2 separate regions of the Homo sapiens genome follow, and region 2 is linked to region 1. Evidence: fine-mapped expression QTL. A gene starts in region 1. The other region holds a variant in brackets. All regions are shown on one strand. Distances are between the middles of the regions. Region 1 holds the start of ANKDD1B (ankyrin repeat and death domain containing 1B). Region 2 overlaps ANKDD1B (ankyrin repeat and death domain containing 1B).

Region 1 (10,633 bases):
TACTGGCCGGGTGCGGTGTCTCACGCCTGTAATCTCAGCACTTTGGGAGGCCAAGGCGGGTGGATCACCTGAGGTCAGGAGTTCGAGACCAGCCTGGCCAAGATGGTGAAACCCCGTCTCTACTCAAAATACAAAAAAGTAGCTGGGCGTGGTGGCACACACTTGTGATCCCAGCTACTCAGGAGGCTGAGGCAAGAGAATCGCTTGAACCCGGGAGACGGAGGTTGCAGTGAGCTGAGATTGCACCACTGCACTCCAACCTGGGTGACAAAGCGAGACCTTGTCTCAAAAAAAAAAAAAAAAAAAGGAAGTACTGTGTGTGGTTGCTTCTGGGAACCTTCCTTTCTTGCAGCTGTAGCATTCTGTTTGCCTCTTCTTTCTATTTCTCTGTTCCATCCTGCTGCCTGGAAGCAGATGCTGCCGTTTACACCTGAACATAAGGGTTGCACAGGGGGATGGTAGAGTAGTGGGCTGCAGGGGCTGATTCTTGGGGCTTTGTAAAACAGAGACATATCAGCACTGGCCTGCACACTTTGAGACTTTCACAAGAAACAAATTAAAAAATTGTTTAAGCCATAGTTACTTGGGTTTTCCTATTAATTATAGCTGAATCCTAGCTGATAAAGGACATAAAGATTATTAAGACATGTTTGTCCTCAAAAAATGGAGAGCCACCCCAGGGACAGTTTCTATTCAATGTAGGGAGGGCTATAATAGATGAATATACAAAGTGGGAGTCTAGGGAGAAATCGTCTGGTAGAGGAGGGCAAAGAGAAATCTAGGAAGATGTTTTTAAAAATATGGAATCCTTGAACAGGACCTGGTTTTAAAGGTTTACTTCAGAATTGAACATATTTTTTTAGTCTAGACCTTTAGGGGAAAAACTTAAAGCTTTCAGGACTCAAAGACAAGTTACTGTTCCCATGGCTAAATTGCATTCCATATTTATTTGACAAATACTTATTGCAGGTCGGGTACTGTTTTAGCCACTGGAGATGCAGTAAGAAACTTAATTAATTTTTTTTTTTTTTGAGACAGAGTCTTGCTCTGTCACCCAGGTTGGAATGCAGTGACATGATAACAGCTTGCTGCAGCCTTGACCTCCGTGGCTCAGGCCATACTCCCATCTCAGCTTCCCAAGTAGCTAAGACTACAGGTCTGCCCCACCACCACCAGCTAATTTTTAAATTTTTTGTGGAGACTGGAGTCTCACTAAGTTGCCCAGGTTGGCCTCAAACTCCTGGCCTCAAGCCATCCTCCCACTTCGGCCTCTCAAATTGCTGGGATTATAGGCATGAGACACCACGCCTGGCCCAACAAAGTTTTAAAAATCACTGTATTTATGAAGTTTACATTCTAGTTGTGGAAACCGACACTAAACAAATAGACATTTCAGTGGTAAGTGTTACAAAGGAAAGAGACAACAGCATAAGGGAATGGAACATGAAGGTAGGGGACACTTTTAGAATAAGATGATCCGAGAAGGCTCCTCTGAGGAAGTGACATTTAACCTGAAACCTTAATGATACGAAGGATCAAAACTATTTTAAAAATTCGGAAGTGGAGGTGGGGGAGAGAAGTTCTAGGCAAAGGGAGGAAATAGAAGCTGATGGCTCTCCACCAGGAAACAGTGGATGAAGAATGGAGAAGAATTGTAGGGCCCAAGATCAGAGAGATGAGTAGGGCCAGATCATGTGGGCAAGCTTTTATGTATTAGCACGCTTAGAATTAATATTCTGCTTGAGAACTAACCTGATATTTGAAACAGAGTGAAAAAGAAAATACCTCCCACAGTATACTTCATAGCTTCTTATTTAGCCCAAGCTGTCAGGGAAATAAAGTCCAGCTATGGCTAAGTTTCACATAATGCACTGCTTTGGAGTTTTTGTCTCATCTGTTAGAGTAAGATAAGTACCACATACTATTATAAGGCTATATAGCATAAAATGATGATGCATTTTCTCCTGTCATTGATAAGAGGATTTTTTTAAAAGTAAATTTCTTGGTTTAGAATTTGAAAGCAGTTTCAAACTTGGATAACACAATTCAGATCTTTTTTTAAAATTATTTTTTATTTATATTAAAAAAAAATTTTTTTTTTGAGATAGGGTCTGGCTCTATCACGCAGACTGGCACACAGTGGCACAATCTTGGCTCATTGCAACCTCTGCCTCCCAGGCTGAAGCCATCCTCCCACCTCAGCCTCCCAAGTAGCTGGGACTACAGGCATGCACCACCATGCCTGGCTAATTTTTGTAGAGAGGGGGTCTCACTTTGTTACCCAGACTGGGAGATTTTTCTGTACTTGGCTGTATGCTTTCCATTGATCTGCTGCTGTTTTCACTATTATTCCTTCTTTTGTGTGGGTATTTTCTTTTGATTTTTAGAATTTTACTTGTAAACATGCTACATATACATATAATTTGGTGCCCTGTTTTTCCATTTACATATTATACTTTCCATATTAGTACATTGTCTGATATTTCTGCATAATACTCAATTCAACTTACCTGCTATTGTTTTTATCATATCTCTATTACAAACATTAGGCCCATTTCCCTTTTTTAAAAGAGGAAAGTTTGAGGTTATGGGCGGTGTTCTGATAAAATAAATAATATTTTGTCATGTTTGTTTTTTCATTGATTAGGAAACATTGTTTTGAATTTAATGCCTCAAATTTGGTGCACAATAATTTGAAGGGAAAAACTGACAAGTTTGAAATGAACATTGATATTACATAATTTACATTAAAATGATACATCTTTTGTAAATTTGTAAGAAGAATAAATAAATGAAAACCTGATTACCTTTCTTATTTGAAGTTTATTTGGGGGGTCAGAATTTGACTTGCTTCTGTATTATTTCACTTTTCAAAAGAATCCGCCAGGAAAGATTAAAATTCATGGTCTTCAAATGAGAAATCAAGTCTTACTTTATTCAAAAGAAAATGTTGGAAGCCCATTTAGAAATGATTTAATATTGAAGTTCCTATAGTGTTAGTTATAAATTCAACCTTGACATTTCTCAAAATTATACAAAGAAGTGGTAGAGTAGAGCTGGGAGTTCATTGGGGCTTGTAGATTTTGCAGGAATTTTTTTTTTTAATGTGTTAAAACAAATTTTATTTACAATAACAGGCAGCAGCGGGATTTGGCCTGGGGATGGAGCAAAGTGACCCCCTGCTGTAGAGCAAGGTGAGTGAGTCACGCCCTTGACAACACATTCTTAGAAGTCATGCTCGTTAGGGGCAAGTTCTGTTTCTTCCACCAACGTCTTCAAGCCTCAGAATCCTTTTCTATCAAACGGGGCTAATAATAGAATACACCATACCTCAGAATTAAGTGAGGCTGTGCAAAAGGTGCTTAATTCTGTGCCTGAAATGTAGCAACAGACAATAAATCCATCTAACAACAAATTCTTATGAAGAAGGTATTACAATAAATTCTTATGAAGAAGTTATTACAATAAATTCAGTGACAAGCAATGATGGCAATGGAAATAAAAATGGAGAAGCAGATGTAATTAAGAGATTTGAGAAGTAAAATTGGCAGTTCCTGGTGACTAAAGCATGTGTTAATGATAGTGATAGTGATATCCTTGGACCATTAGTTGTTCAGCTTTGAATACCCTCCCCAATTTCTCTGCTTATTCTTTTTTTTTTTTTTTTTAGTATTTATTGATCATTCTTGGGTGTTTCTCGGAGAGGGGGATGTGGCAGGGTCATAGGATAATAGTGGAGAGAAGATCAGCAGATAAACACGTGAACAAAGGTCTCTGGTTTTCCTAGGCAGAGGTCCCTGCGGCCTTCCGCAGTGTTTGTGTCCCTGGGTACTTGAGATTAGGGAGTGGTGATGACTTAACGAGCATGCTGCCTTCAAGCATCTGTTTAACAAAGCACATCTTGCAGCGCCCTTAATCCACTTAACCCTGAGTTGACACAGCACATGTTGCAGAGAGAACGGGGTTGGGGGTAAGGTTATAGATTAACAGCATCCCAAGGCGGAAGAATTTTTCTTAGTACAGAACAATATGGAGTCTCCTATTTCTACTTCTTTCTACACAGACACGGTAACAATCTGATCTCTCTCTCTTTTCCCCACATTTCCCCCTTTTCTATTCGACAAAACCGCCATTGTCATCATGGCCCGTTCTCGATGGTCGCTGGATGTTTTATTTTCCAGAGAACCAAACCTTAGCACTGTGCACGCCACACCTGAGGGCGGATTATCCCAGGCCAGCCCAAGTCAGGGCAGGGCTGGAAACTAGGGGCTTGTTGCCCAGCGAACCGCCACAACAGAGAGCGGACTCGATCCTGCGCTCCGGCCGGGCTGACCTGCCTGCGTCCAGCCCCCGCGCCCTGGGCCTGCCTGGGTCTGGATCTGTGTCCGAGTCTGGGTCTGGATCTGGGTCCGAGTCTGGGTCTGGCCCTGCGCTCAGGGCCCGCGGAGGAGACTATGGACCCCGCCGGGCGCGCCCGGGGCCAAGGGGCCACGGCAGGGGGGCTGCTGCTCCGGGCTGCTGCGGCCGCCAAGGGTCTCAGGGAAGACCTGTGGGGCGCGGCCGCCCTGCCTTGGAGGAGCCTGTCCCGGATCCCGAAGCGGGAGGGTCTTGGAGAGGAGGACACAGCAGTTGCCGGACACGAGCTCCGTGAGTCCCGGGACGAGGTCTCAGAAAATCAGGCTGCGGGGCGGGCTGGGTCGAAGGGACTTGAGAAGGTACCCAGAGCAGCACCTCCGGACGCTGCAGGAGGGAAACTGGCGAGGCGACTCAGCCCTGGGACCCCGAGTCCCAGCCTGCACCGCTGCACTCCCTGTTGGCTGGTTTTCAGCTTTGGAATCCACCCCCACCATGTACTGTGGGTGGAAGGACAGTATTATTCTTCCGAATTAAGGAGGAGGCTTTTAAAAATAATGATTAAGTCCTTTTGCAAATAAGAGTTTCATGTGCTCTTATCTCCTATATCGTGACTCATGCTCCGATTTATTGTCTGACTTTAAATAAGTCAGTCACTTAATCTTTCTGCACTTAAGTTTTTAAAGCATGGAGTGGATCATCTATGCCTTGGGAATAATGTGTAGCATAAACTGAGGCAGCTGTTAAGCAGTTCGAAAGCTGAAAGCGATTTAAGTCTGCCCCCGCCCCCCCCCGCCCTCCGCCCCGCCCCCGCCCTCCGCCCCGCGTGTAGGGTCTTGTTGCTCTGTTGCACAGGCTGGAAGGCAGTAGTGCAATCACAGACCTCCTCAGGCTCAGGTGATCCTCCCACCTCAGCCTTCCCAGTACTCAAGCCTCTTAACGGGGCACACCATCCAAGCCTACTGGCTGGGACGGCCTTATTTCCTAAACCAGGCTTGGAAGCTATACACCAATTCATCAATATAGTGTTCATTCAGTCATTCTAGAACTATTTTCAAGGGCTTAACTATTTGCTAGGCATGTTCTAGATGTAGGGTTGGAGAGAACAAGACAACCCCTGTTCTGGTGGAACATTCTGTTGTGGTGGAGGGGTGATAGACAATAAAATAAGTACGCAAATAAATGAATAAGATAATTTAAGGTAAGTGCAGTGAAGGCCATGAGACAGGGTAATGTGGTTGGAGTCAGGCTGCCTGGGACAATTCTATAACTTACAAAGCATGAGCAAGTGGTATAACTTTTGAAGATCTCAGTTTCCTCATCTGTAAAATGGAGGAATCATGCCTACATCAACAGATTATTTGTTTTATATAAACCCTAGGGCATTCTAATAGTTGGAGATCAAGCAAAGGAAAAAGAGCCAGTAGAAAAGACTAGAAAGCGAAAGTTGGTTTACCAGACCTCTAGAGAAGAACATGTTACATGGAGTGTGTGTTCCTCTGTGTCAAAGTTGCCAAGAGCTCAATGCACATGACGGAGGTATGATGACTGGGTTTTGGCAAGGCGGAGTGACCTCAACAAGAGCAGTTTCAGTAGAGGGGTGGGAAAGATGTCTGATTAGCATGGGTTGAGACAAGACTGTGAGATGAAGAAATGGAGACAGCAATTATAGAATACTTAAGTTTGGGGTAATGGAAAGTTGAAAAATGCAGCAGCAGTTGGAAAGGAAGCTGGGGTCAAGGGAGGGTTTTTTATGCATAGGGTATTATGGCATCTCAGTATTTTTTGAGGGGAGTGATCCACTGGAGAGAGATTAAGTGATCTAGAGGAAAGAAGAGATAATTTCCAGGAGATTGACATATGAAACACTTGAAAAGATAAAAGGGGATGGGATCCAGAGCCCAAGTGTAGAGGTTGGCCTTTCCTAGGTACAGGGATGCTTCATCCTGCATATATAAATGAAGGTAGGTTGGTAGACTCACCTAGGTGGGAAGATGTGGGAATTCGTGTCCTATTACTTCTGTTTTCACTATGAGGCAACGGTATTAACTGAGAATTAGGTGATGGTAGTGGGAGGAAGTAAATTACGTAGATTAGTAAATTCAGATATTTGAGGAGAAAGGAAAGGATATGACATGTTGAAGAAGGGAAGACTAGGGAAATGTAGAGGCTAGCTAGTCGTGCTGAGATTAGTGGGGAAGAATTTAAGAGACCTGTTAGCATGTGTATCAGTCAGGACAAAGTAAGCTTTTCCTGCAGCAATAAATGACTCCTACATCTGAGTGACTGGACTTAAAAACGATCTATTTCTGACTGGGTGTGGTGGCTCACACCTATAATCCCAGCATTTTGGGAGGCCAGGTGAGAGGATCACTTGAGACCAGGAATTCAAGACCAGCCTGGACCACGTAACGAGACCCTGTCTTTACATTTAAAAGAAAGATATATTTCTTGTTCGTGTAGCATGTCCAAAATAAGTTGGCGAGGGTCTCTCATCTTCTTAGTCTCTCAGGAACCCAGGTGTCAAGGATCATAAAGGGGTTGAGATTTTACCCTACTTGTAATCTCACAAGTTAGCTTGCTAGGTGATAGAGATGCTGGCAGAAGACACTTCTGGATCAGAGTTGATGAATTTCATTACTCATAGCAGTAGCAGTAGCCAGAGTGTTAGCATTTGTGTCAGTTCTCCAAGCCCCAATTCCCACAGGGAGATATAAAGATGCCAAATGACACCTGCACACACAGTGGGTTGTGTTACAGAAAAATCCTGCGCTTAGGGAACCCAAATCTTTTGTAATAGTCAGTAAGCATGCCTTACCATTGCTTTCTTCCAAGGCTGCAAGCAAACCTGCCCTTTGCTCCAGAGGAAGATATTATCTCTGTCTGTCAAGGCTTTTCACTATACAAACATCCTTGAAAAGGTAGTAAAGAGCAAAGCCAGTCAGTGCTTTTGCTTGTAAGATGTGCAGAAATGTGAGAGACCCAGGGAGAATTGTGTCCCAATACCAAGTTGATGGAGGTACCACCATCTTGTAACCCCTTCATTTAAACACATGGCTTCCAGTGTTGATAAGGCAGGGAAAAGAGACCTAGAGGGTGACACAGGCTTTTCACTGACTCAGCCCCAAAGTGACATGCCATCACTTGTGCTTTCAGTCCATTGGATACACCTCAACTATCCAGGCTGGGTTATGGGCTTACACATGTGACCAGGTAGAAGAGAAGAAGCAGATATTGATGAACACTAGCAATGTCTACTACAGTATGGCTGTGTGTTTTTCTCCAGTACCATTTAGCTGTTCAGGTACAGAAACAAAGCAAGTAGCAGTTGGATTTAATCTCAGAATTAGGATTCTGACCAACTAGTCTAATGGAGGAAAAGAATGGTGAGGGAGGTAAGTGTTTGCATAGAAGTGATTTCATAGGTGGACCATGTGCTATGGTCTGAATGTGCAAAATAAATTTCTGTTTTTTTAAAATTACTTAGTGTCAGGTATTTTGTTATGGCAGCAAAAACAGACTGGCACCATGGAATCTAAACATGGTAAGGAGGGAAGTAAGGACATAGAGATGAAGAATATGAAAAAGGGCTAGAACTGTGGACTGGAGGACTTCATAAGGTTGCAGAATTTCTGGACTTGGAGAACTAGAGCAGCTGAGCTGAATGGATGAGAAGTTGTGGTCAAAGAATAGGATTCTGGAAGTCAAGATTTCAGAGGTAGTGCAGTTTGAGGGATGATTAGTTCAGGAATGTGTCTCTGAAATTTGATGGCTAAGGTCAGATCTGGGGAAGATTATTAGAGGTGACAGAGTCAGGGAACTAAGAGGCCAAGGTGTTGGATTAATCATCTGTGAGGAGGTTGAAGTCACCTAGAATGGTGACAAGAGTAGGGGTAGGAACGAAGAGAAGGATCCAGGTAATAGAAAGAATGAACATGTGAATCTGCATGAGTCTACTCAGGCTGCCACGACAAAGTACAGCAGACTGGATGGCTCAAACCACAGACAATTATTTTCTCACAGTTCTGGAGGCTACAAGTCCAACATCAAGATGTTGGAAAAGTTCAATTCTTCTTAGGCCTCTCTCCTTGGCTTATAGATGGCCACCTTCTCCCTGCCTTCACCTGGTCTTCCCTGTGTGTGTGTGTGTGTGTGTGTGTGTGTGTGTGTCCTAATCTCTCTTCTTATAGGGACACCAATCATTATCAGATTGGAGCCCATTTATATGACCTCATTTTACCTTAATTACCTCTTTAAAGGCCCTATCTCCAAATATAGTCAACATTCTGAGGTACTTGGGGTTAGGACTTCAACATAGGAATTTTGGAGGGACACAATTCAGCCCATAACAATATTTCCCAAGAAGATACTCCTTGGTTGGTCCTTGATTGGACTTGGCAGTATCCTGAAAGGTCTTTGCTTCGGCAAAAACTTGGGGAACATTGAATGTTATGATGGTACCATTTAAAAAACAAGGAAACCCTTAGGAAACTAATCCACAACACATCTACAGAAACCTCTCTTACGGTCCTTTCTGTTTGGAGATGGTATGTTATTGACTCCTACTTAACCTCAATTCTGGTCTTACCCCTTATGTTGGGCTGTCCTCTGAGAGCCCTCTACTCCCCTACATAACAAAAAACTCAATAAACCCTGGAATCTTCTCTGTGATAGTTAATAAAGCCTACCATATGAATGTGTATATGTGTGTGAAATGTGATGTTTATAGTAGATGTCAATCTACTTCTATGTGTTTTTATATAAATGAGAATAAAACATTTTAATCCCCTTTAACTTTGTGTCTGTATGTATGATGGGCTGCATTTTGAAATCTTCATGCAGGCCTGGCCTCGGTATAGAGTTCTGAAGACAACAGTTTTATCTCTGTAAGCTGTAGGAGCATTTGGACTCCTCCCTGCCTAATCTTGTACAAGGTTTTTTACAAACAATGCCCCCTGGGAAGTCTATGGCCGCCTTCTGACCTTCTAAGCCAGATACCAGGTTACTGACTTCAGGGTGGTCCTCATGAATAATGTTTTGTTTGGGGCCAGGAACATTTTTAAGGATGTGAAAGCGCTTGCAGCATGAGGAGAAAATGAAATCTTGATACTACAGTTTTGTAAGATATTGAAGCGAAGTTCCCATGTCTTAAATAAAACAGCAAAATGTGAAAGACTCAAAGCTGTTGTTACAAGGTTTGCCCTATGAAATATGCTTTCTCTTTGGCCTCCTTAAATTCCCTCAGTCATGCTTGCTTTGCTTTCTTTCAGTACTCCCAAATGAGAGAAGCTTTCAGAATGCTGCTAAAAGCAATAATTTGGATCTTATGGAGAAGCTGTTTGAAAAGAAGGTTAACATTAATGTTGTGAACAATGTGAGTAGAAGTCATAAATATGACAAGTGACTTCTCCAGTAATGGCTTGGATTTACACAGGACATCTGAAATAATAATAAAAATAAAAATCATGGTGCTGGCTGAGATAAGGGAGAGCTGCTTTGTTGGTAATCCCGGGGTGTTTAAGCTAAAAGGTGGAGTCAAACAGTGGAAGAGGCTCTGGGTGTTTTAATTCCTCTTCCAAGAAGGGGAGTGCACAGAATCTTCATGCCTATCTGTTCAAAGTCTGTGGGTGGGCAGTAAAGCCAGCTGTCAGGGTTGCAGGCCCGGACTTGGTCCTGGATTGTCGCCTGTGGATCAGTTTGGCCTCACACATTCTGGAAAGGCAGAACATTTTTTTGCTATACAATCTGGGTTGTTTTCTTGCCAATGATGTCCTTTGTGGTTCTGTTTTTCCAAATTTAAAAATCTAAAGAGGCGTGTGGATTTTCATTATACTGGTTTTGAAATGTAGTGCGTCTCCCTCTTGGGCAATGAGGCCTTATCTAAAACCTGGCTCTTACTTGTTCTTTAAGTGCCGGGTTTTAGCGGAGGGAAAGTCCACTGCCATAAATTTGGATTCTTTACTGCTTGCTTTTGTGAGGATTTCCTGATAGTCCTTTGAGGCCAGGTTTATCAAAGTGAAGGTTGGAGGCTGTGTCAATTGCTTAGGACAATTTGTGGAGTGGTTCAAGGTGGGTGTGGCAGAGGTGGATTTAATGGTATACGAAGCATAAGCTTCAGGGCCCTTGCTTGTACAGGCCCCTTGTAAGGCACTGAGAGGGCTCTAGTAATATGTTCCTATGACTATATGATTTTGTAAAATCTGAAAAAATGTAAGGCATTTTAACTGCAATTATTTAAGCTTTCTGACTCTGGCTTTAAGGAAGACTCCCTAAATAGTCT
Region 2 (10,633 bases), 64 kb after region 1:
CAAGGCTGTGTGAGCTCACTCTTGAACTCCAAAGCTGACTGACTGGTTGTAAACCTCGAGCAAGTTCTATGACCTTCCTGTGACAACCTTCTCATTTATTAACTAGGAAAGAAAATAAAAATGTTTACTTCAAAGGGCTGTTGTGGGATTTAATGAATAATAGTGCCTGGTAGACAATCAGTGCTTTAAAAATTTTAGGTATTCATAAATGTTATCTTATTTTTTCCAGAAAAGACTCGTCATTTCAAAAGCAAAACTGACTCAAACTCCAAGAAATGTGTAGTTTCATAAATGCCTAAAGAAATTGTATTTACATGATTTTCCACTCAGCATTCAGTTCTTTTAATGCCATAAATTTCTTCTAGCAGTAGCACTGATTTTCAACTATGATGATGGTGGTGACAGGGAACTCTAACAGATGAAAGAAGAGTAATACCATGATACTTTTCAACCACTAAAAAGTCAAATATAGTTTTTTTTGCTGAGGGCAAGTTGTATGTGATTTTCCCATTTCTATCAATCATTTGATGTAATCCATGTAATAAGATAATCTAGGACGGTTTTGTATGTCATGTTTTTTTAAAAAACTCATGGGAGCAGCATCATGGTACAGTAAAAAAACAAGGGTTTTTATAATAGACAAATATGGTTTTGAACTTGGTTTTGCCACTTATTAGATGTGAACCTTTGGGCATGTTAATGTTGTTTACGTTCTTAGATCTTCAGTTTCCTTCTCTATAAACTGGGAGAGATGTCTATTTAATCCATAGGGTTGGAATGAAGATGAAGGGAAAATGCCTGTGTAGCCTCACGCCCATAGTACGGAAATCAACTGCTATTTCTCTTTCAGTAAGAGAAACTGGGTTTGGAATTTATAGTCATTGTTGACTTTAAATCACACATTTTGTGTAATATATTACTTAGGAAAGACCAGAAGTATGTACACCATTTTTTTTTTTTTTTAAATCTCTTGGTGATGTAATTACAGATGATTATTTTCTTTGTACTTTTGGGTACATTCCATTCTTTTTTTCACAAAGAACATGCATTATTTTTGTAATCTAAGAGTTATGAAATAAATGTAAAATTGAGTGTCAGTTTATGTGCACCTATTCATTGGAATTTAAGACTCTCCATTCTCAGATTCTGACTCTAAATTTACAAGGCACATACTAAAACCATAAGCAATTTCAATCCAGTTATTCTATCATGAATTTATAGTTTTATGTCTTTGTCTCATACTGATTATAAATGGCCCACTTAATCTTATGAATGTTTAAAACAGGTAATAGATTCACATGATTCCAAAACGTTTTTCAAAAACATATTGAGAAGAAGTATTGTCCCATCTGTTCTTCAGTATGGCCAGTTTCCACTGACCTCTCTTTCTCTATTACTGCTCCCCACCAGATTGGGGTAACCTCTTTATGCAAAAATAAACAAATATGAATATATACTATAACTGTGTCAAGTGTTAAACTGTTGAATTTACATTAACTTAGGCCAACACTAATTGCTTGGTGCTTTAGACAACATACATTTCTAGAGCTTAAAGCTTAAAAATATGTTTATAATATTCTTAATCACAACATTCATAATATTCACTTCAGTTTGTCCATATTGTTTTGGCTTGGATACTGAAAACCATTCCTAGTTGTAGTCTAGATTCCTCAAAAAGTAGAGCTTGTCTAAGACCGAAGTTTGTGTGCAACAACTTTTTCAGAAGTGTACATCCGGGGAAGGAGCGGAGGAGAAAGGGGAGTTGTCTAGGGAGGAGGGAGAGCAAGAACAAAGCGAATTACCTAAGTGGCCATCACTTGGTACAAGCATAACTGATTATTTAATCTTGGGCTACTCTATTCTGAGAGACATGATATACTAATGCATCTCAGGACAATTCATACAGGGAGAAGGAAGGAAGAATTGGTCTGTTTACCATAATGCCAAGTATTAATTCTGGGTTGCATGAGTGGGCTCCCCAGTGGAGCCTGCACTATCCTGACTCAACTGGGAGTGAACGGGGAAGCCCGGGAAGAGCACACACATGGAAAGGGCACGAGATGAGGTGCTTGTGGTTTGTGTTCATGAAAAGCTTGCTGAAGACCATGAGGGGTGGAGCTGTTTGTTTACCACAATGGTAGCTGGGCCAGAATCCAGAACAAGTGTTGTGTAAATATCTAATACCCTTTAAGAAACAGCCTAGTAATTCAGAAAGGCCTTAGGATTCTATTTGCCTATATCACATTTATTCTCTGATGTCCTGTGAACAATGTGAGGCAGCAAGAAAACCTATTTCCTATAATAAAAATTAGTGCAGAGAACTTATATTCAAATTAGAAGAGGCTTCAGATGATTAACTCCATCCACTCTGTTAAAAGAGATGGAAATTGAGGTCCTGGACAAACTCTTTAGAACCTGTTCATTTTTATGTATAAGTACTGTGAAATAGTAGGTAGATTTTATTCTTATTTCACAGATGAGGATCCAGAGATTCATTTAATTGTCTGGCCCACACAATCAGTCAGCAATGAAACCATTAGAAGCCAAGTCTTGTTCACCTAAATCAGTTCTGCCCAGATGGTTTCTTTGTATTGGCCAGCCATTGAAAAATTTCTGCCCAGGCCTAGGTTTGCTGAGTTGCTCAGGGCTACGCCACCACAGAACAGTGTTTAGATGTTCGGGGAGAACAAGGTAGGTTCAGTGCTGCAGAGTTTCAAATAATAAGGCGAGAAAGAACACCAGAAACAGGCTCATTCTAACAGGAAATTTCTGATACTTCTGTAACTCTAGTGCTAGTATTACAAATGTTTTCCCTTTTGGCATTAAAAAATGATTCATAGGTGTTGCCGTTTCCGTCTATTTTCAACTGTTGTTAGAGTCCTGGAAAAATGAAGACTAACATGTTAAAGCCACAAAAAACGGGGCCGCGCGTGGTGGCTCATGCCTGTAATCCCAGCACTTTGGGAGGCTCAGGCGGGCGGATCACTTGAGGTCAGGAATTCGGGACCAGCCTGGCCAACATGATGAAACCTTGTCTCTACTAAAAAAAGATACAAAAATTAGCCGGGCATGGTGGCTGGCACTTGTAATCCCAGATACTCGGGAGGCTGGGGCAGGAGAATTGCTTGAACATGGGAGGAGGAGGCAGTGAGCCGAGGTCACACCATTGCATTCCAACCTGGGTGACAGAGCGAGACTCTGTCTCAAAAAAAAAAAAAAAAAAAATCATTATTACACTTGGTCTTTTTTAAATTAAAAATAAAAATATCCTAGTTTCCACTAGTTCTAATACTTTGTTTTTAGTAAGGTTCCCTCTCAACACTTTGAGTGAATTACAGCTGTGTAATATTGGAAATGATTTAGTGTTTTATAAATAGTGAAAATAAATTTATATATTTTGATGCTGTAATCAGCAACAGGCTAAACATATTAAAGAAATAAAGTCCAGTTTCTTTTTTAATTTAAAAAAGTTTTACTTAATTGCTTAAATAAAAAATAACATTAAAATAATTTCTACATATAGTTACAAAGCATGGTAGAGCTTGAAAAAGCCTCTTGTAATTTTGAACAGATGAACATGATGTCTCCATGATGTTCTAACAATATGGAAAAGTTAAAACCAAAAGACTTCTAACCCTTGGTAAGACCAGAGGGATTAAAAGACCCCACTATGGACATATTCACTTTAGTCAACCACTTTTATGGAATGAACACTTGTGAGAGACTGGGTGTGAGCTGATCTGGTTCCAAGTGATCTGGAAGCTGAGGTACTACTTTCAGGATGAATGGTCCGGGGATATTTTGCTGCAGTTGCTTGAGGAATGGTTTGCTGAAAAGACAAAATTCTGCTTTAATAATATCCCAAGATTATGTATACTATGTATCATTTCATCATCTATCATCTATAATTTAACCCAATAAACATTTGTTAAGATCCAGTAGAAAGAAGCAATGAGTGGAGTGAAGCAGCTGTTAATTAGATGAGGCCTTTGTCTGTAAGGAACCCCTACCCAGTCTGACTGACATGTTCAACACCCACAGTGTAATATCAGAGCTATATCCACAAGGCTCATTAAGAAAGCCACGGCAGCCATTCCTCCAACAGGGCCAAGTGGAATCTTGTAATGTGTACAGAGGCTTTGTATACAGAGAGAAACTCTGTGGTGTCTGGAAGAGGGGTCAGCCCTGAGTCCTCCCCTCATTCCATCCAACTTCCTTCTCTCTACTTGACTGTTAGTATGTGGATGTGATTATCTCACAATCCCAGGGGCACAC[G/A]GAAGCCCTCAGGATGCAGTCTGGTCCTTGCTTTAAACCAGAGCCCTCATATTTAACCTGGTTCACCTGGGAGCAGACTAAAACTTTTATGCACATCACCTCAGAGCTCAAAGGAACACCTCAGACATGAGCACTGAGTCATTAAAGTCAGGACACACGTGACTTACTTGACACACATAATATGCATGTAATGCATGTAAGTACACACTATGTATACAAGTACACATTTACATGTAAACATGAACAATATGTATCAGTACAAGGCTTTTCCCTATTAAACCCGATAAAGCTTCTTAGTAGCCAGCAGTGGGATTTGTTATCAAGTTCTCAGTCCATATCACTGACTAGGACATGTCAATTTCTATTAGGGTCTTCCACTTAGAAAAGTCATTGTTAAAATAGTTTAAGTAAAATTACATGTATTTGGTCAAAACATTCACTATGTATTTAAAAAACTCCAAGCTGTAGTTTTTGCTTAAAAAAAGAATGAAACTTCTTAAAAACAAAAGATCCTGTCAGATTCCATTTTAAAAAGAACAGAACTCCTTTTTAAAGAAAAATAACTTCTTTTCTTAAAGTATCTTATAAAAACGTTTATTTGTACATAAACAACTGGATAACCATTATAAATAGGAGATACTCTTGCAACAGATAAGAAATTTTAGTTGCCAGTCACCTAATTAGTTGCCAGCCACTAACCTGAGCCTGCCAAAAAGGCTTTCTCCTTGAGGAGGATGGGCAAGAGGAACTGTAGAAATAAAGTAGCCACTGAAATTATGATACACAAAATATGACAGAGAATGAAGTGGCCCTAGAAGCATGCAGTTACCCAGCAGATGAGGCTACAGTGTCACAAATCGCATCCTTGGTTTTTTAGTAATAACTATTTCTGGTAGATTTAGATCTTGATTCCCAGGGTGAAAAGAAATACAGTACAAATGACTGCCACTGTGTCTGTCACATAATCCAGGCAGCTGATGGCTATCTGGTTCATACACAGTTAGTGGGTAAGAAATGCACATACTGAATAAAGGGAGGGCAGCATGGGAGATAAGTATCAGAAACAAGGGTTCTAAATGTTTAGTACTTTGATTTTTCTTCTGTAAAATATGAATTCCCATCATTACTACAAAACAAAAGCTTGTCTAATAAAAAATAAACACACATGTGCTCTCTTTACACCTTCTTTACCTCACAAATGGACAGTCTCTCACCATCTCTATACATTTTCTACATCTGAAAAAACAGAAGTGGGTTTATTTCTTCTCATTTTTGATAACTTGTCTTCCATATTCAAAAATATATAGAAAAGTCTTCTACGAACTTTCAGAGTCTGTCCAACTTATGAAACATGAAACCTAAGATAATTCTAAAATAAATCCTCTGTCATCTCCATGTCTCTATCTGGACTTGGTGCTTCTATCTCCAGCCTTCCACCTCGCTAAGGTCCCACTTCACCTGAAGTTCAGTTCAAATCAATCCAGCTTGTCTTCATTTAATCATCTAGTGCCCAGCTAGTACTCGGGAAAAAAGGATTTAAAATCATTCCATATACTTTTTTTTTGCTAATACTTAGAAAGTACACAGGAACGTTGTCCGATGCTGAGAATTTATAGAGGGCATTCTCTTTTAAAATCAGTCCCTGAAATCAGCTGGGGGTGGTGGCGGGTGCCTGTAATCCCAGCTACTCGGGAGGCTGAGGCAGGAGAATTGTTTGAACCCAGGGGGCGGAGATTGCAGTGCGCCAACATTGCGCCATTGCACTCTATCTAGCCTGGGAGACAAGAGAGAAACTCTGTCTCAAAAAAAAAAATAAATAAAAAATAAATAAATAAATAAATAAATAAATCCTTGTTTTTCTTTAGGGATGTTCTTATCACTCTTATTATACTTTTTGAGATAATTGTTGATTCGTACACATTTGTAGGAAATAATTCAGAGATATCTCATGTATCTTTTTCTAGTAACTTTCAGTAAGTTAAATTTGCTTATGGTTTTATAGTTTATAAAATGCCTTAATACATCTCGTTTAATTTTCACATTATCTCATTTAATCTTGAATCCTAACAATAACCCAAGGAGCTAACTATTTTTATTAACCCCATTTTACAGAAGAGAAAGTGGAGGCTCAAATATTTTACTTGATTTGTATATATCACAAAGCCAACAAGTAGCAAAGCTGAAGCACTAACTCGGGTTTTAAAATTTTTGCTTCAAATTCAATGCACCTTCTTTATATCACATGCATTTACTGCAAGTTGAATTTTGTTAAACTAAAAACATGCTGACAATTGTACTGAAAAAAGGGGAAGACTTTTTTTAAAAAAGGACCAAAAATTAAAAACTATAAATGTAGGGGAGTTTTCTTGTAATCAAATATCTGCTACATGAGCAGCTAGTGAGTGAACAATTTTTGTCTCTTTTTAAACTGATAATAAAGCATTTACATATTTTACTCTTTTGACCACAAACACACTGGATTACTTTTAGTATTTTATAATTTTTACAGTTTGGAAGAAACGATGTTTCTGAAATTAATTTCCCAACAGCAGAAACGTAGATTTATAGCAGGTTTGAGAAAAACAAGTATATATATTAAAAAAAAAAAAAAAACTGTAACAGGAAAAGGCAGAACAAGTACCAGTCATCATAAATTTTTATCTTCTCAACATGTTATGTAAGTGTTTACTAGTCTATGAACTCTCAGGAAAAAGACTTTTTGACAAAAGGTCATCAAATGTGGACTCACCACTGTGACTGGATGATGTTTTTCCACAACAACTGAGCTCATGGGAGGAGAAACTCCCATTATAGCTAAACTGCTGCTAATTCTATTTTTTGAAGCAAAATCACATCTTCCTGTGATCCGGGCTGTAATAGTTCTTCCTGCTTTCTGTTGTGCAGAGGTTACAACTCTTGGCACATACTAAGAAGAAAAAAAAATAAAAGAAGTAACAAGGTGGCAGAAAATCCACAGCAAAATCTATTGATTCCATAAATTATGAAGAATACACAGGCACTTAAAATAACTGTATGTTCAACCAACTTTAACATGGAAAAAACAAAATCACAAGACGAAAAGCAAAACAAAACTGAACACCCCAAAATATCCCTTTAACCTGAGTATGCCAACGATTTTATAAGATTTTAGAAACTTAAAAAACCAACTTTTTTTTTTTAAATGATAGATTTATAGAAAGACACAGAGATCATATTGAAAAGTACTGTGTGCTCTTCACCCAGTTTCCTGCCATGGTTACATCTGACATAATTAGAATATAACAAAGTCAAAACCAGGAAGCTCACCATGAGATAATGCCTGTGTATAGATCTCTGTCATTTTATCACCTAAGTTCCTGTTAACTATCACTCAATCAAGATACAGAATACTCATCACCACGAAGATCTCCCTCGTGCCACCCTTGACAGTCATATCCATCTCTCTGTTCCTTCCCCAACCATCCTTAACCTCTGGAAACCATTAATCTGTTTTATGGACTCTTTGATCCTTAAGCATAATTAATATTATCATTACACATATGCTTCTGTGTTCTGCCTTTTTTCCTTCTCATTTTATTAATATACTTTTTTTTACGAGGTAATACAGAGACCTGCTATAGTTCTTAATGAGATGGTTTTTATACCAACATACTACTTTGTCTTTCTTTTTCTATTACATTTAGCACATTTTGCAAAAGAAAAATCCTCTTTTGAGAGTTACTTCTGTATAATAAAAATATATTGCAAACAATGGAACGATCATATCAAAAAGTATTATCAGCTTTTATAGCTTTTGCTGCTTATCGCTGGATAATACTCCAGAAAAATATTTACAGCAGGAATAACACGTAAGTGGACTATTTTTCCACTGTCAATCAATTACACAGCCGCCTGTTTAAGTCTGAGGTGAAATCTACTATTCAAGTTGTGGTTCTTTATTAATGTTTCATATTTGTATTCCATTTTGTCAACTATTCATCTTATTTGCTAAGAATTGAAAGGATATTAATATTTAAATTTAATAGTTCCTGACGAGTACTAAACTCATTTAATAATTATAGATACTTATCTCAGAGTGTAAACGATTTCCCCATTTCATGTATTTGTCTTAATTTTCAATGCACATCCATTTTTTTAAGTTGTGGTTAATCCTGTCATTAATTTCCTCTTGCTTCCATGATGAAACCAAAACCAGCTTTGGACAGCTGAGGTAGTTATATTCTTATAACATTTACTTATTTTGGCTTAGCTTATTAAAACATTTGAAATTCCAGTGTGAAGTATTAATCTAAATTCATTTTTTCTCTAAACAGTTTTTCCAAAGGCATTTATTAAGTATCAATCTTTTCCCGATTATTATAGTTCATCTGTGATTCTCCATATAGCTGCATCTAGCTACACACAGTCACAGCTGTATACTGAAATGGGAAGAGAGTGGGCTTCAGGAGAGATGTCTCTGGGAAAATTAAAATGACAGAGTATTGATGTTTTTGGAAGACCCTATGGAAAACAGCATTCAGTGGGGTTTTGTAATCCTTGGAGAGTTTGGAAATAATTCACTATAGTTGGATAGAAAACCGAAGATAAAAATGAAGCAATTAATTCTAAGAACAAAACATTATACCAGAAAGGAAATGTAGTCATAGTACACATTCATGGCTTAGCTATATTAGTAATCATAAATGATTTAATCTGAAATGGGAATATCTATAACATACAGGGAGGATAAGGAAAGTGAAGAGAGAGAGAAGGAATAAGGTGGCATCAGGAGGCCAAGTCCTCTTATCTGTAATAAGTTAACAGATAATGTTTGAAATTAATAAATGTAGAAATAATGATATAAACATACTATTTAGGAAAAAATGGAAACAGAAGAAACAGCTAACAGAGTTAGGGAGAGGAATTTAGAAGACTGTTTCTCACTATAGTCCTTGTAAAAATGATTTGGCTTTTTAAACCATAAACTTCTATGGATCTTATGAAATTGAAAAACTAAATCTCAGATTTAAAAATATTTACAAATATGTTTTTGTGGACTAAATTCATGCTTCTGGCCTGAGGGAAACTTTGTCCTATTACTTATTACAATAAGGGACAAAAAAGATTTTACAAACTCCTGAAGATGCTTAAATGCTATTTCAAAATAGAAAACTAATTGCTGGCAGGAATATTCTTTGCCAAAATGTGGAAATAAGTACAATTGAGTTTGTAACTTTCCTCCTGCCCAATCACGCTTGAGGGGTGTCCTCTCAGTAGCCATGATTCTCACCTGGAGCTTCAGGTGTGAATGAAAAACTAGAGAAGTCTGGACTGAAGAAAATTAGAGTAGCAGGAAAAATGCTCATAGATGATAAGCTTCATTCAACCCAGCTCAGAATTGCTTTAGAATGCCTTCAATAATTTGAAAATATATACTCCTGTAAATAAAATGACTTCTAAAAGACTTCTAAAAGAAATCTCTATACGCTCATTGAATTAAATAGAAGTTGTCTTAAATGGCTCGCATGTTTACTGTCGGCTGCTTGTTTTCAGATGGTTTGTCACTTGTACTTGTTAATGTTTATTTAATGTATTAAAAATTGTATAAATTGATGAAAAAGTTGAAAATGCATAAGGACAATTTAGAAATAATTCATAAAGATAAATTATTAGAAAAAAGTTGCTACTAATCAGGGGGAGGAAAGAAAAACCTAGAAGGATTCTCTAATCAGATTGTTTGGAAAGTTTTGTTAGGTTCATGCTTTACAGAAACTGAAATTGGAGATCATAGAAAATATATTGGGTGTGGTTTATATTAAAAAGATGACAATTACAATCTTTGACCCCACATTCAGTTTGGCTCCACATTTAAAACCAGCAAATTAATACATATTTATGTTTTAGGATAAAATAATGCATTAGGTATGTATCATTCTCTGCAAATTAAATGACCACTTACTGGTACCAATCATGTTGGAGTTCATTAAATTTATCAGCTTAGCTGACTTTAAAAAATGCTATAAAAATAAAAATTCTAGCATTTTAAGCCACATCAACATAAGCAACAAAATTGAAAGGAGTAAGAAAAAAAATGAAATGACATTAAAAACAGTATTTGTAGCTTAATATTTGACAGAGAGACAGTACAGATCATTGGTTAAGAGTAAGAGGTCTAAATCAGATTTTCAAAGTCTGAATTCCAAATCAGTTACTAATCGTGTCCTTAGGCAAGTTGCATACTCTCTAAGCCTCAATTTCTTCATTTATAAAATGGAGAACGCAGTACCAACTCCCTAATGATACCCTTTCACTTTCTATTCAAATGAAGAGGAAAATTAGAAGAGAAACTTTACTAAAGGTCTTTACCAAATAGCTTTAA

The links.
Region 2: its variant is fine-mapped to the expression of ANKDD1B in whole blood (TOPMed, PIP above 0.99). The same link has a PIP of 0.9 or more in esophagus muscle and sun-exposed skin.

Annotation. Positions count from the first base shown.
Region 1 is chr5:75,607,181-75,617,813 of GRCh38, forward strand. ANKDD1B (ankyrin repeat and death domain containing 1B) reads left to right here and starts at 4,273. Exons shown (of 14, transcript NM_001276713.2): 1 at 4,273-4,647; 2 at 9,624-9,727. The coding sequence starts at 4,455. It overlaps POLK (DNA polymerase kappa), which reads left to right. Exons shown (of 15, transcript NM_016218.6): 15 at 1-2,811. RefSeq lists enhancers at 2,959-3,766, 3,767-4,573, 4,574-5,380.
Region 2 is chr5:75,670,750-75,681,382 of GRCh38, forward strand. It overlaps ANKDD1B (ankyrin repeat and death domain containing 1B), which reads left to right. Exons shown (of 14, transcript NM_001276713.2): 14 at 230-1,097. The coding sequence ends at 291. POC5 (POC5 centriolar protein) reads right to left here. Exons shown (of 12, transcript NM_001099271.2): 11 at 7,025-7,201; 12 at 3,375-3,829. The coding sequence ends at 3,686. Among named protein-coding and RNA genes, the nearest start is that of POC5, 41 kb to the right of the region's middle. The variant G/A (reference allele first, on the strand shown) is at 4,276.